Linked DNA regions of Homo sapiens: all the other regions are linked to region 1. Evidence: fine-mapped expression QTL. A gene starts in region 1. Each other region holds a variant in brackets. All regions are shown on one strand. Distances are between the middles of the regions.

Region 1 (4,241 bases):
TAATAAAAATCACATTTTCTGGGAAAACTCCCTGACGTTCAGGAAAAGTCATTCCCTCCTCCATGCTCCCTTGAGGCCTTGATATTCTAATTGCCACATTGTTACACAATGACATTATTTGTTTCCCAGTCTTTCTGCCGGGCTAGACCCTGCGCTCTTGGGTGGCAGAGACCAGATCTTACTCATATTGGATCCCTAACACTCAGCACAGAGCCCGGCTTATAGTAAGCCTTCATAGATTTCCTGGAATTGAAAATATAATTCTAAAGCAACCACATGAGGTGAGCAGGGCGGGTATTATGCTTCTCATCTTACAGATGAAGAAACAGGGATCTAGGGAGAAAAAACAAGGTCTTCACCCAATTTCCATTTGAAATCAGAGACCCAGCCAGGGCTAGCACACAGGTGTCCCAACCCCTAATTATTACAAAGCTCTCTTGGCCACTGCATAGAGGAGGCTAGGCACCTCTCTTTCTGACTCAACAGCAGGGGTTGCTTCGAGACTGTTCCTAACACAGGCCAAGTGTCTTCCTGGGGTAAGACTGGATTAGGGGACCCTGCTCGGTCAGTGGTCCTGGTGATCGCCTAGGGAAATAGATCTATTCTGCTGGGATCTGGGACTGAATCCTAGGCAGGTTTGTGGGGAGTAGGATGGTGAGAGGTGCTGGAAGGCACGGGTCCACTTCTTAACCTTCCTTTTAACTCTGTGCTGCTGGGTGGAAGCTTTATAGTCAATGTCCTCTCCATCTCTGGCCACATTCCCAGGACTCCTGATCATTAGAGTGACTGTTGTCCCAAGTGGACATAATTATAAATAGCTCCCTTCTTTTACTGAAAGTGTCCTACAGTGGACAATAATTTAGTCCCCTCCTCCAGTGGAAAATATACTACACGCATGCAAAAGCTCAGAGGGCTCCAGGAGTCGTCCCAACTCCCCTTTCTCAGTTCCTTGGGATTTTTTTTTTTAAGTTTGTCCTCTACTAGATCGCTTCTCATTCACCAGGATATCTTAGATCAAGGCTGGCGTTTGAAGCCTCTGCCTGAGTTCAAGCCCCTTGCTTCCGGTGTTCCTGTCCAAGCCCGCGGACTGGAATCTCCCAAGGAAGTTACGAATAATTCGGGGGGGGTGGCGAAATGGGGGGTGGAGTGGGGCGTGAAACTGCAGCCTTCACCTGGCTAACAGAAGAGGACTCAGGACGCCCAGCACCCTGGATAGGACCCAACAGCGCTCCCTGGAGGTGTGGGTGCAAAGTTTTGTCTAGCTTGGCCTCCAAGGCCCTCCAGGCAATGCACTGGGAAGGGAAGAATTAGTGATTAAATTTGACCTGAATCAAAAGATGCCTTCAGTTCCTCTTCTGCTGAAAACACTAGAAATACAAGCCCAGGATGTGGGGATCGGGGGCAAGCGGTGACACCAACTAAAAGGAAGCAATGGATTTCCTTTTAAATGGAGAGGAGGATGTCGGAGAGATACCATGAAACGAATTCTCGAAACTCCAGGCAGCAATACCGATGAAAGCGCATTCTTCCAAAACAGAGCTCCTCATTCAGGGCCACATCTGAGCCTGGGGGCCCAATGCTCAGAGCGTGCCTGGCTTTCTGGGGAAAAGCGCCAGGAACATGAACGAGCTACGAAGAGCTGGAGCGGGCGCTGCGGGAGCAGCGTGTGGGGAACGGCTCGGGAGTCGCTGCTGGTAACCCCGGCCCAGCCGCCCGCAGCTGGGCTCGCAGCCGGCTCGCAGCCGACACCCAGGGTGCTGCGCCCGGGGCCCCGGGCCGCGGAAGGATATTTCACTTTGTTTACCTCCCCGGCCGGGCGAGGGAGCTGCGAGGCCGGTGCTGGCGCCCCCGGCACGGAGCTGCAATGGCAGCGGCGCGGGGAGCCGCCCGAGGACTGGCAGCGGCGGGGCTGATTGATGGGCGCCCGGCGCAATGAGGGGGGCCCGGGCGGGGGCGGGGCGGGGCCGGCTCTGGGCTGAGCCAGTCGCGGGGGCGGCGGGGGGGGGGCGGAGGCTCCGTGGAAATGTGTCGGTGACATTGAATGGGGAGACCGAGCGCGAGCGAGGCGCGCGCGCGCACACGCGCACTCACGGCCCCGCTCGCTCCGAGATCCCCGGCCACGTAAGTAACTATTAATACCGCCTCGCCGGGGGATGCGGGCGTGCTGAGCGCGGGGATTGGCCTCGGGCACCGTCGGCCGTCCCCTTTAATTTTTAAATACACGGTCCCCTCTTTTCTCTGGGGGGGGCAAGCAAGAAATCAAAGAAGGAGGAGACAAGCCGTCAATTTTCTCCAAAACAAACCCCACCGGGCAATTTGGTCTCGGGGTAGGGGGAGACGGGGTGATTGCAAATTATTCCAGGACGAGATCCAGTTCTCCAGCGGGAAAGGGGCAAAGGAACGCCGCGCGTTGGAAGGGCCAGGGACGCAGCTCCCCTTGCAGCGCCCGCAGGACCCCCGCAAGCTCGTGCCGGCGAAATCGGAGACCGCCGATCTGTCCTCGTTCTCTCCTGCACGTCTGGCTGCATTCGGAGGAAGACCTGGGGCGCGAGCGAGCGGCGACAGCATGAGCCTGTGCTGACCTCCGCGCGGCGGGCCGAGCCCAGGGCTTTGTCGCGGTACCTGCGCCCAGCCCGCGCCGCAACTCTGTGCCCAGCTTTTGCAATCTTTTGTTGGCAGCGCTGACCGCACCAAGTTAAATGCTCCCTTGCAATTTTTCTTTTTTTTGTTTGTTTGTTTAATTTTTGGAGAGCTCGCGATCTTGGAAAAGCCTCAGACGCCATCTACAGTTAAAACGTAGGTAACTGCCCTCTCCCGCACCCCCCCCTTACACGCCCCCCACCCTTTCCACCAAAAAAAGGGGGTGCAGCGCGGATTCTGGCTGCCGTGCGTCGCCAGCCGGTAGACCCGTGCTTGTTTCCTTTCTCTTTTTGTTTGGCTTCTAACGCGTTGGGACTGAGTCGCCGCCGTGAGCTCCCCGAAGACTGCACAAACTACCGCGGGCTCCTCCGCCCCGTCTGCGATTCGGAAGCCGGCCTGGGGGTCGCGTCGGGAGCCCTGGCGCTGCAGCTCCGCACCTTAGCAGCCCGGGTACTCATCCAGATCCACGCCGGGGACACACACACAGAGTAACTAAAAGTGCGGCGATTCTGCACATCGCCGACTGCTTTGGGGTAACAAAAAGACCCGAGTTGCCTGCCGACCGAGGACCCCCGGGAGCCGGGCTCGGAGCAGACGAGGTATCCGGCGGCGCCCATTTGGGGGCTTCTAACTCTTTCTCCACGCAGCCCCTCTTCTGTCCCCTCCCCTCTCGCTCCCTTTTAAAATCAGTGGCACCGAGGCGCCTGCAGCCGCACTCGCCAGCGACTCATCTCTCCAGCGGGTTTTTTTTTGTTTGTCGTGTGCGATCCTCACACTCATGAACATACACAGGTCTACCCCCATCACAATAGCGAGATATGGGAGATCGCGGAACAAAACCCAGGATTTCGAAGAGTTGTCGTCTATAAGGTCCGCGGAGCCCAGCCAGAGTTTCAGCCCGAACCTCGGCTCCCCGAGCCCGCCCGAGACTCCGAACTTGTCGCATTGCGTTTCTTGTATCGGGAAATACTTATTGTTGGAACCTCTGGAGGGAGACCACGTTTTTCGTGCCGTGCATCTGCACAGCGGAGAGGAGCTGGTGTGCAAGGTAAAGGGCCAGTGGGTTGCTTTTTGTCTTTGGAAGGGGCCCGAGGGAGCGGGAGGGCGCCAGGCCCTCGAGTCTGGGAGAGGGAGATTCGCGGGATAATTACCGTGGCCTTATTAAATGGGTTTATTTATTTATTTGCTCAGGTTCGGTAAGTTGCGAAGTTTTTAGACCGTTTCAGACAATGGGGCGGGCGGCAGTGGGGGCGTTTCGGGGAGAGCCCGGGGAGGAGAGGGCGGCGGGACTGCGCGGGGGCCACGGACACGCGTGCACCGAAGGCTCCAGGAGCTCTCTGCGCGAGGCCGGGTCCCGCTGCCCGGGGGGGATTTCTTCCTGTGTCTAGCCCCCTCCCCTTCCAACAAGGATTAGGGAATCCCCCGGTAATTTTAAGACTGATGACTTCGTTCTTTTCGCAGCCATTGTTCTTAGCAGCGGGCAGGTGTTAAACCTTTGTTCCGAAGGTGCCCTTTAAAACAGACACACAAAGGTGCCCCCTTCGGCTGAGCCCAGGGGCCCAGCGCAGGGAAGGAGTTTACAAAGACCTTTCTTCTGCCTG
Region 2 (4,241 bases), 440 kb before region 1:
AATAATTTGGTTTGCCTCACGTCCTACATGAACTGGAAGAAAAATAGCCTTTTTAAGCCCGTATTTCAGTTTTCAGTTTTCATGGCACTCTGATGGGGAATGAAGGGGATGAAAAGGGGCACACCGACCTGCTTCCCAGGCTTCCAGCTGTGTCCATGAGGTAGTGGGCTGAAAGGAAATCCACGGCGCTATTATGGTATAATTTTAACAAGAAAAACACCTTTTTAAAGTTCATCTGTGCTGCCTTTATACAGAAAGCAGCGCTGAGGTTCCTGGAACCCCATTTGTGATAGGAGCCATTTGGGATCGCTTCATTGCAGGCATTCATCTTTCCTCTAGTGTATTTTTATCTTCTCTCAGGATTGTCCACAGAACTTGGACTGCAGATTCGTTAGGCAGGGACTGGGGCTGCTTTAAGTCAACATAAAATTCTGTCATATTGTCAGTGCTCATTACGTCTTCTATAACATATTGTACTTAGGGTCTTTTGGTTTTCAAATATACTACCATGCTATTTTTCAGCAGGCAAGCCTGGGCAGATATTTTCTCCATTGGTCTACAGATAATGCTATTTTCCATTTTCTGCCTTGGAAAACGTTGACTCTCCAATAACCAACATTTGTGAACTAATTGATTACAAATGTCTATGAGGTCAATGTTTTCCCGATTCAAAGAGCTATCAGCATTTTATTTGATATAACTTCCAAAAGAGAATCATTTTAGGAGTACCTGTACTTACTACATTGTATGAGAATTGTCTGTCACACACCCTGATTTCCATGAGCATGAGACCAGAGAGGTACTTTTCCCCTACAGTGGTTACAGGAGGTTGTACCATATGAAAATGTTTTAAACCATCTAATGTCAACAATTTCGAACATAATGATCGAACAATTACGGTTCGATCTAATACCACATGTGGAACATAGCAAGTAACAAATAAATATTTGTTGATTGGATGAATAGATGGAATATAGATGTCTAGGTATGCATTTAGCCAACTAAAACTTAAAATGGGAGGTGAAACTATTTACCCAGCAGCAGAAAATCACTCTCTTCATATCGGCAGCAAGTGGGCTCTTGTCTTTGGAGACAAAAACAAATCAATGTATTTTTGCTGCTTCAATTCATTCACTTGTTCATTCATTGACCCTTTCAGTAATTATTTAGCATCTTATGTGACGGCACCATGCCAGCTGAGAAAATGCAGAGAGCCCACTGTCAAATGTTGGAGATGGGGCAGTCACCAGTGTTGGCAGCACACAGAGGAAGTACATGCCATGGTAGAATTAGGTCCAGGAACCATGAGAATCTAGAGGACAGGCTCCCAAAACCGGCCGGCTGGTGTGGAGGTGACACATAAGCTGAGTTCTGAGATATCAGTTAGGAGGTATCTGCCAAGGAAGTTAGGGAAAATAGAAATCCTCCAGAAAGAAGAAACCACTTCTTCAAACACCTAGAGGTGCCACTTCCTGGTGATAGGAAGGTGAGCCCAGACTGAAGAAGGAGGCAGGAGCCAGGCCAGGAAACTCTTTTAAGGAGTTTGTATTTTATCTTGAGGGAAATGGGGAGGCAGTAAAAGGTATTAAACAAGGCAGTGACCTATTCAGCTTTATGTATTAGTACAGATCATCTGAAAAATGATTTGAGGATGTTTTTCAACTAAAAAGTGAACTAATGGGAGTTTTTGCTGGTATGGAATCAAATTTGTAGCTGATTTTGGTAAGTAGCAATTCTTTCCATCTTTATTATATTGGTCTTTTCATTATGTCAATTATATCTCTAATCATTTTGGAGTGGCTTTATGTTCCTAAGGATGGTTTCTAATTTGCACATTGTCCTGGGTGGAGGAGTGAGTTCAGATCACCTATACCAGCATTGCTGAAAATAGAAATTCCCTTTACCAGGACTTCAGCAATAGAAATATGTAATTTTTGTGAAAATTCTTTGTTGTATCTTGCTCTCCTTAAGAACCAGACATGAGCACAGGACCTAGGAAGATGTCATCTTGAGTTGCTTACATATTTGCACTGAAAATAAAAAAATCTTCCCTTCCCTCCAACAAGAACCCATTGCCTGAACAATGCTCTAGAAGAGCTATTTTCCAGCACACACTCATGTCTCTTCTCCAACACTCAAAGATTAAAGTTAAAAGAGTCGCTGAAAAGCTTTTAAACTGAAAGACAGAAAATAATACTTTCATTGCATTATTTTAAGCATTTATTTTTTTCTTGTTGTATCATTTAATTTTTAACGGTCTTTGTTTTTTATGGAAATATTTACATCTGTCTCATTATAAAAGTGCAATTAAGTTAGCATATATTTAGTAAATACCTACTAGGTAGACAGAATAATGCAGACATGTTGACAGGATGGCCTGGAGTAGAGAAGTTGGAAGGGAAGTTATGTATTTTGACTGACTTGAATGAGTTACAATAAAATCAGTGTAGTAAGCAGGAAAACAATTCCTTCACTAAGAATTGGCAGATGGGTGGTCAACCATTACTTCCAGATAAGTAACTACACAGTCTTGTGAATTTATTCTTTGATTTGTTCAACAAGTAATTACTGATCATTTGCCATGTGCAAGGTATTGT[G/A]CCATGTGCTGTGGGGGTTAGAAAAGAATCAGAAATGAATACTGATTTCTTTGAGTTAATGGCCTAGTATTACAGATAAATCATACACATACATGTCTCTGGCAATAGTCCCTAAAGCCTTTTGATCACTCAACACTATTAGGAAAAATATTTGAACATACAGCCCAATATACTATTTATTATAAATAATTTTATTGCATTTTGTAAATATACTTTTAAAAAGTAAGATACATAACAGTAAAATGATTTGTTTTTTCAACTCAATAGAATATTTTGATTAAAATTTTTTTATTAATACCATTTTTATTGAGAACAATATGATTGACTATGCTTATTTCTCAAGCATTATTTTAATTATTTGCACTTAGTGATTGAGAATCTGATTTTAATTTCATGTTATTTAATAGTTTTTAAAAAAATATTGTAGCTGAAAAGTTTTCTTTATAGGAACACATAAATCAAAATGGAAGAAATGCATCCTTGGCTTTTCTTTAAATATTGATGCACGTATTTTAGTCCCAATTACCAATTATGTAAAATTTTCTTTTTCCATTTTTTGCTTTTGAATTTGGCTTATAAATGTCAGCCTTTCCTGATGTCAATCAATTGTTACTGCAAACTCATCTGAAGATGTGACATTTTTTATCTATTTTAAAAATGAGTTTGAAATCCCCTAAAACTCTTCATTAGGAAGTACTGCCTAGCCCTGCTATTCAGCATTATACTGCTAGTCCTAGCCAGAAAAATTAGGCAAGAAAAGGAAAGAGAAACAAAAATAATCCAATTTGGAAAGGAAGTAAAATGATCTCTATTTGCAGATGACACGTTCTCTATAAGAAAATCCCAAAGAATATGCACACACACGCACACACACACACAAACCTACTAGAACTAAGTTTAGCAAAGTTTCAGGGTATAAGGTCAACACACCAAAATCATTTGCATTTCTATTTGCCAACAATGAACAATTCAAAAAGGAAATTAAGAAAAAAATTATTTACACTAATATTGAAAGAATAAAATACCCAGAAATAAATTTTAGAGAAGTGAAAGACTTGTACACTGAAAACTATAAAACATTTCTGAAATAAATTAAAGAGGAAATAAGTAAAAAGATAATCTATATTTATGAATTAGAGCACTTAATATTGTAAAGAAACTACTCCCTAAAAAAGATCTACAGAATCAATATAATCCCCATCAATGGCCTTTTTTCCCCTGAAATGACAAAGCTAATTCTCAAATTCATATGGAATTTCAAGGTGCTCCAAATAGCCAAAACAATATTAAAACAAAATAAAAACAAAATTGGAGGCCTCACAAATTTTCAGTTTCAAAACTTACCACAAAGCTGTGGTAATCAACACAGCATAGCACAGCCATAAGTATAGGCATATAGGCCAATGTAACAGAATGAGAATCCAGAAACAAACCCAAACATCTATGGCCAATTGATTTTCAGCAACGTTGCCAAGACCCTTCAACAAGGAAAGAATAGACTCTTAAATAATTGGTGCTAGGATAACTAAAAAACCATATGCAAAAGAAGAAATTTGGACTCCTTTCTTCACTCCAAATATAAAAATTAACTCAAAATTAATCAATGACCTAAGTATAAGAGCTAAAACAACAAAGCTGGTACAA
Region 3 (4,241 bases), 25 kb after region 1:
ATTCCCTGCTTCCTGCCTGGTCCTAAAGAGAGGCACCTGGTATAGCAGAAAGAGCAGCAGCATCAACTTAGGAAGATGTGGGATCAAGTCTTCTCCATTTCCCAGCTAACAGGTTTGGGGAAGTTACCCGAACTCTCTGAGTCTCGATATTCTCATCTGTAAAATGGGATGTTAATATCCTACGTGTCTAATACAAAGGGCTGTAGTGAGGCCAAAATGCAAGTAAGGTGAAAGGTCTTTGTGGACTGTGGTCTGTCATGTTAGTTACACGTCTGCCAAAAGTTGTAGACAAAGCTGTGGGCTTCCTGGTTGGTTAGGTCTCGGTTTGAATTCTGTGGTGCCCTATCATTATGCAAATGTGACTTTGAGAAAGCTAGTTAATCTCTTGTTCCCTCATCGCAGGGGTGATGATGATGTGATTCATGGTTCGCTAAGGTGCTCAAGGTTTGAGCTCCCCAGTGGATTATCAGCTGCATGAAAAGACCTTGTCAGTCTTGTTCACCCATGTGGGTGTCCTCAGCCCTGGAATAGTAGCTGGCAGCTAGAAGGTGCTCAGTGAGTAATGTTTGGCTGGTCAGATGAATGCGTGAATGAATGAATGTGAATGAGGAGTCTTCAGAAACACTATAGTCGGTTATGTTATGATGCTGGTGGTAACGTGTCTCTGAGCACCCTCAGGAGCTTATGTTTTCCTCCTTTCTTGCAGGACTCGGGTCAAGCTGGAAAGCCTGGAAGACGCCTACATTCTGCGGGGAGATGATGATTCCCTCTCCGACAAGCATGGCTGCCCGGCTTACGTAAGCCCAGAGATCTTGAACACCAGTGGCAGCTACTCGGGCAAAGCAGCCGACGTGTGGAGCCTGGGGGTGATGCTGTACACCATGTTGGTGGGGCGGTACCCTTTCCATGACATTGAACCCAGCTCCCTCTTCAGCAAGATCCGGCGTGGCCAGTTCAACATTCCAGAGACTCTGTCGCCCAAGGCCAAGTGCCTCATCCGAAGCATTCTGCGTCGGGAGCCCTCAGAGCGGCTGACCTCGCAGGAAATTCTGGACCATCCTTGGTTTTCTACAGATTTTAGCGTCTCGAATTCAGCATATGGTGCTAAGGAAGTGTCTGACCAGCTGGTGCCGGACGTCAACATGGAAGAGAACTTGGACCCTTTCTTTAACTGAGCTCATGCCCCACGGAGACTTAGCAGGTTCCAGGAGTGAGCGAGGGCAGCGGAAAGGAGTTCTTCCGGGGGACACGAATTGCCTGGCTGAGTAGCAAGAAAGACACACTCTTAAGTTTCTTGGTTCAGAGCAGGAAAACCTTCAAGGAGCTGACTGACCACGTAGCATGGGGGCAAGAGGCGTGGGATGGGGATTGGGGTGAGATGGATGGGAGCCCGCTGGAGCTTGTCTTCCCTAACATAGCCTGGGAGACCACCCCTTGCCACTTGGGCCACTTCCGCCTACCCCACTTTTCATTTTGTTCCAAAATAGTTGCAGATCCTGACAGAATCAAAACTCTCTGCCTCAAACACACATCCTGGCATCGCACTGTTAGCATTTAACTTCTTGTTAGGATTCAGGGAAGGAACAGTTGGCCAAGAATTTTTTTTCTTTTAAACAAGCCAACCACCTAGCTGGTAATTAATGAGGTTCACTTAAAAAAAAAATTCGGTGCACACAGACTGACATGAAACCTGGGTGCTACAGTAAAAGAAAACAAAAGTCCAGTTTGTGTCTCTTAATCGCTCACTTCAACTCATTTCTTCTAAATAAACTATTTAATA[T/G]CCTGGTCAGGAAATGACATGTTAATGCTTTGCTCCCTGAAGGGGGAAAAAATCTGTCCTTTAACAAGCTATTCTGTTTTGTGTCAATTGGTTCGTGGCAGGAAGCTATTAGAAGTCAAACGTCCAGATGCATTACTGCTATCTTAGTTTAAAGGGGGAAAGAAAAGGGAAGAAGAAAGGAAAAGAGAAATCCAACTCCTTTTTCATGTTTTGCTTTTGAACAATGAGGGTTTGTGTGACAGGCATTCCTCTTTGCTGAGATGATAGCAATGGCCTGAGATTTTAGCAAGCTCCTGGAGTCTGATGCTTTTGCAGTACTCTGATCGCAACTAAACATTTGTCTTTGTTTTATTAGAAACTAGTGAAACAAAGCAGGTTGTCCCACATGTATAAAATACAGGGCAGCTATTTAGTTTTCTTTACAGAGAATGATCCTTTTAAGGCTTGTAAGGCCCTCTGGTTTGGACAAAAACCCTCAGTAGAGACAAGCGGGAAGGATAATTAGCTGAAAGCTATGATGATATAAATAAAAACAGCTCTCTATCCCAATACGCACCTTTGTATTTTCAAGAACTCTTCTATTTATTAAGGAAAATGTCACATTGTGATGTATTAAGCCAGTACTTCAATTACGGGTTGACTTGGGATGACATATTACATGCTGTAGTTAACATTTATAATTCTTTTTCCTTGTTTGAGTATTTCTGTCTCTGAAATAACCTTTTACTTGGCTTTTCTAGATAGCTTTATTTGATTTCGAGTGGCAAAATGTTTTTTATTACGGCTTTTCTATTGCTGTATGATACAGAACTCTTTTGGCATAAATATTTGTGTTCCCAGTACCTCACTTGTTCGGATTTGACTGCCTGTATATGTTTTGTGAAATGGTCCTGTTTTTGGGTAGGTGACACGTGGACTCTAGTATGTAAATGTTACTTGAATCTGTGCTTCATAATAGTGTGTGGCATGTATGTGCAGACTCTTGGATGCTTTATGCCTGCGCAGCAGGAGCCCTGTCCTCACGTTCCCAGGAGGGCGGCTTCACCCTTCGTAACCAGGAGACAAGGCGGCCATGGATTTGCCCTTGATTCTATTTTGCTAATGGAAGATAGAAAGGAGAGAAGGTTTTTTTTTTTTTTAACATTCTGAAGATGGTGCTGTGTCAAGAAGGACCTTTTTTTTCCCCTCTCCCCTATTTTTTAAGTACCTTGGAGGAGGAGAGGTTGGTGACATGCATGGTGGGGATCTATGGCCTCTGGTGCTTTGTCCTGTATTTGGTTTAATGTTTTTGTCCTAATCTCTTCAATCAATAAAATTGTGCGTATTTAACTAAAATGCTGGAGTCTGGAAAATGATGATTTTTTTGCCACCTGTGCTTTGTGGTCACCACACACCGGGCAGAAGCTCACATCTTACAGGCATTTGCTCTTTCAGGGTGAGCCACTGCTACTACTTTTAAGACATGGAATCTCCCTTTCATCGTATTGGGGCATATGCTGTCCAATCTGGATGCAATAGCTCACACTGAATTAATCGTCACAACAACTGTAGGTGACCTAACTTACGTTCCTAATACAGATTAGGAAATAAACCCAGAAATGTGCATGCCTTGTCCAGGGTTAAACTTGTGAGTGCTAGGCCCAAGACTGGACCCCATGTCTGGTTAGCCACAAAGCTTGTTTACTCTTTCTACAATGTTAAGAGTCCAGATGTTCTCAGGGAGAGTGTAGTAATAGCTCTAGAGTAACCAGGATTACGTAGGGCACAAGTAATCCAGGCCTACACATGGTTTCCCCAGGAAAAGCCCTGTGCTGCAAACTTGAGTGGAACCCTCCTAGGAGACCACCCAACTCCCAGCAACAACATCTGCCCAGCAGCCCTTACTTGAGTCTGAGATCCGCAAATATCAAGGTTGCTGGGGCTCGATAGACAGTCGCATCCGTAGTGCACCTTACTTAACAGAAATAACTACGGCCCAGAGAAGCTCAATTCTCTCCTGAAATGTTTGCTAAGCACCTCTGTTATTTCAGTGTGTGCTGGGAAGAGACATGGAAACAGACAAATGCAATGAGTAGAATCAAGTGGTGGGGTACACACACGCAGGATTGATGGAAGCCCATCAGATGGACAACTCCTGTCTAGGTCCGTCAGAAGGTGTCCTGGAAGGGGTAGCACCTGAAGCAGAGTCCGGAACGAAAAGAATTTAGATAATAAGAGAGACAGCAGCAGCACTCTATGCAGGGAGGATGGTGTGAGAAGTATTTAGAGACTTATCCCAGTTAACACCATGAATGCCAAGCCCTGGATGGAGTTCATAAAAGATCTTGCAAAGACTGGAGTTTGTGGTTTACAAGAGGATGTGGCTGAAGCAGAGGCTTCCTGGCCATTTGGACCAGTCTTCTAAATTCACAAAGTGCTTATTATTCAGTGACATCCCTTCTGTGTCCTTAGCACCTGGCTC

Direction of the effects. Positions count from the first base shown, and alleles are read on the strand shown. Sizes are in standard deviations (SD) of each study's normalised expression. Not every link is listed here.
In carriers of allele T in region 3, the expression in follicular helper T cells of the gene that starts at base 2,047 in region 1 tends to be lower than with G alone (large effect, 1.3 SD a copy in Schmiedel 2018).

What was found. PIP is the estimated chance that this variant, and not a neighbour inherited with it, causes the effect.
Region 2: its variant is the best candidate, but not a certain one, in a credible set for the expression of TRIB2 in whole blood (TOPMed, PIP 0.58).
Region 3: its variant is the best candidate, but not a certain one, in a credible set for the expression of TRIB2 in follicular helper T cells (Schmiedel 2018, PIP 0.50).

The regions. Positions count from the first base shown.
Region 1 is chr2:12,714,890-12,719,130 of GRCh38, forward strand. It overlaps TRIB2 (tribbles pseudokinase 2), which reads left to right and starts at 2,047. Exons shown (of 3, transcript NM_021643.4): 1 at 2,047-3,688. The coding sequence starts at 3,419. LOC124905974 (a long non-coding RNA gene) reads right to left here and starts at 1,869. Exons shown (of 2, transcript XR_007086222.1): 1 at 1-1,869. RefSeq lists silencers at 1,635-1,854, 1,945-2,004 and enhancers at 1,957-2,596, 2,445-2,514, 3,876-4,241.
Region 2 is chr2:12,279,615-12,283,855 of GRCh38, forward strand. The region is part of intron 3 of MIR3681HG (MIR3681 host gene); the gene reads left to right. Among named protein-coding and RNA genes, the nearest start is that of MIR3681, 83 kb to the left of the region's middle. The variant G/A (reference allele first, on the strand shown) is at 2,598.
Region 3 is chr2:12,739,620-12,743,860 of GRCh38, forward strand. TRIB2 (tribbles pseudokinase 2) reads left to right here. Exons shown (of 3, transcript NM_021643.4): 3 at 707-3,115. The coding sequence ends at 1,175. Among named protein-coding and RNA genes, the nearest start is that of MIR3125, 4.4 kb to the left of the region's middle. The variant T/G (reference allele first, on the strand shown) is at 1,781.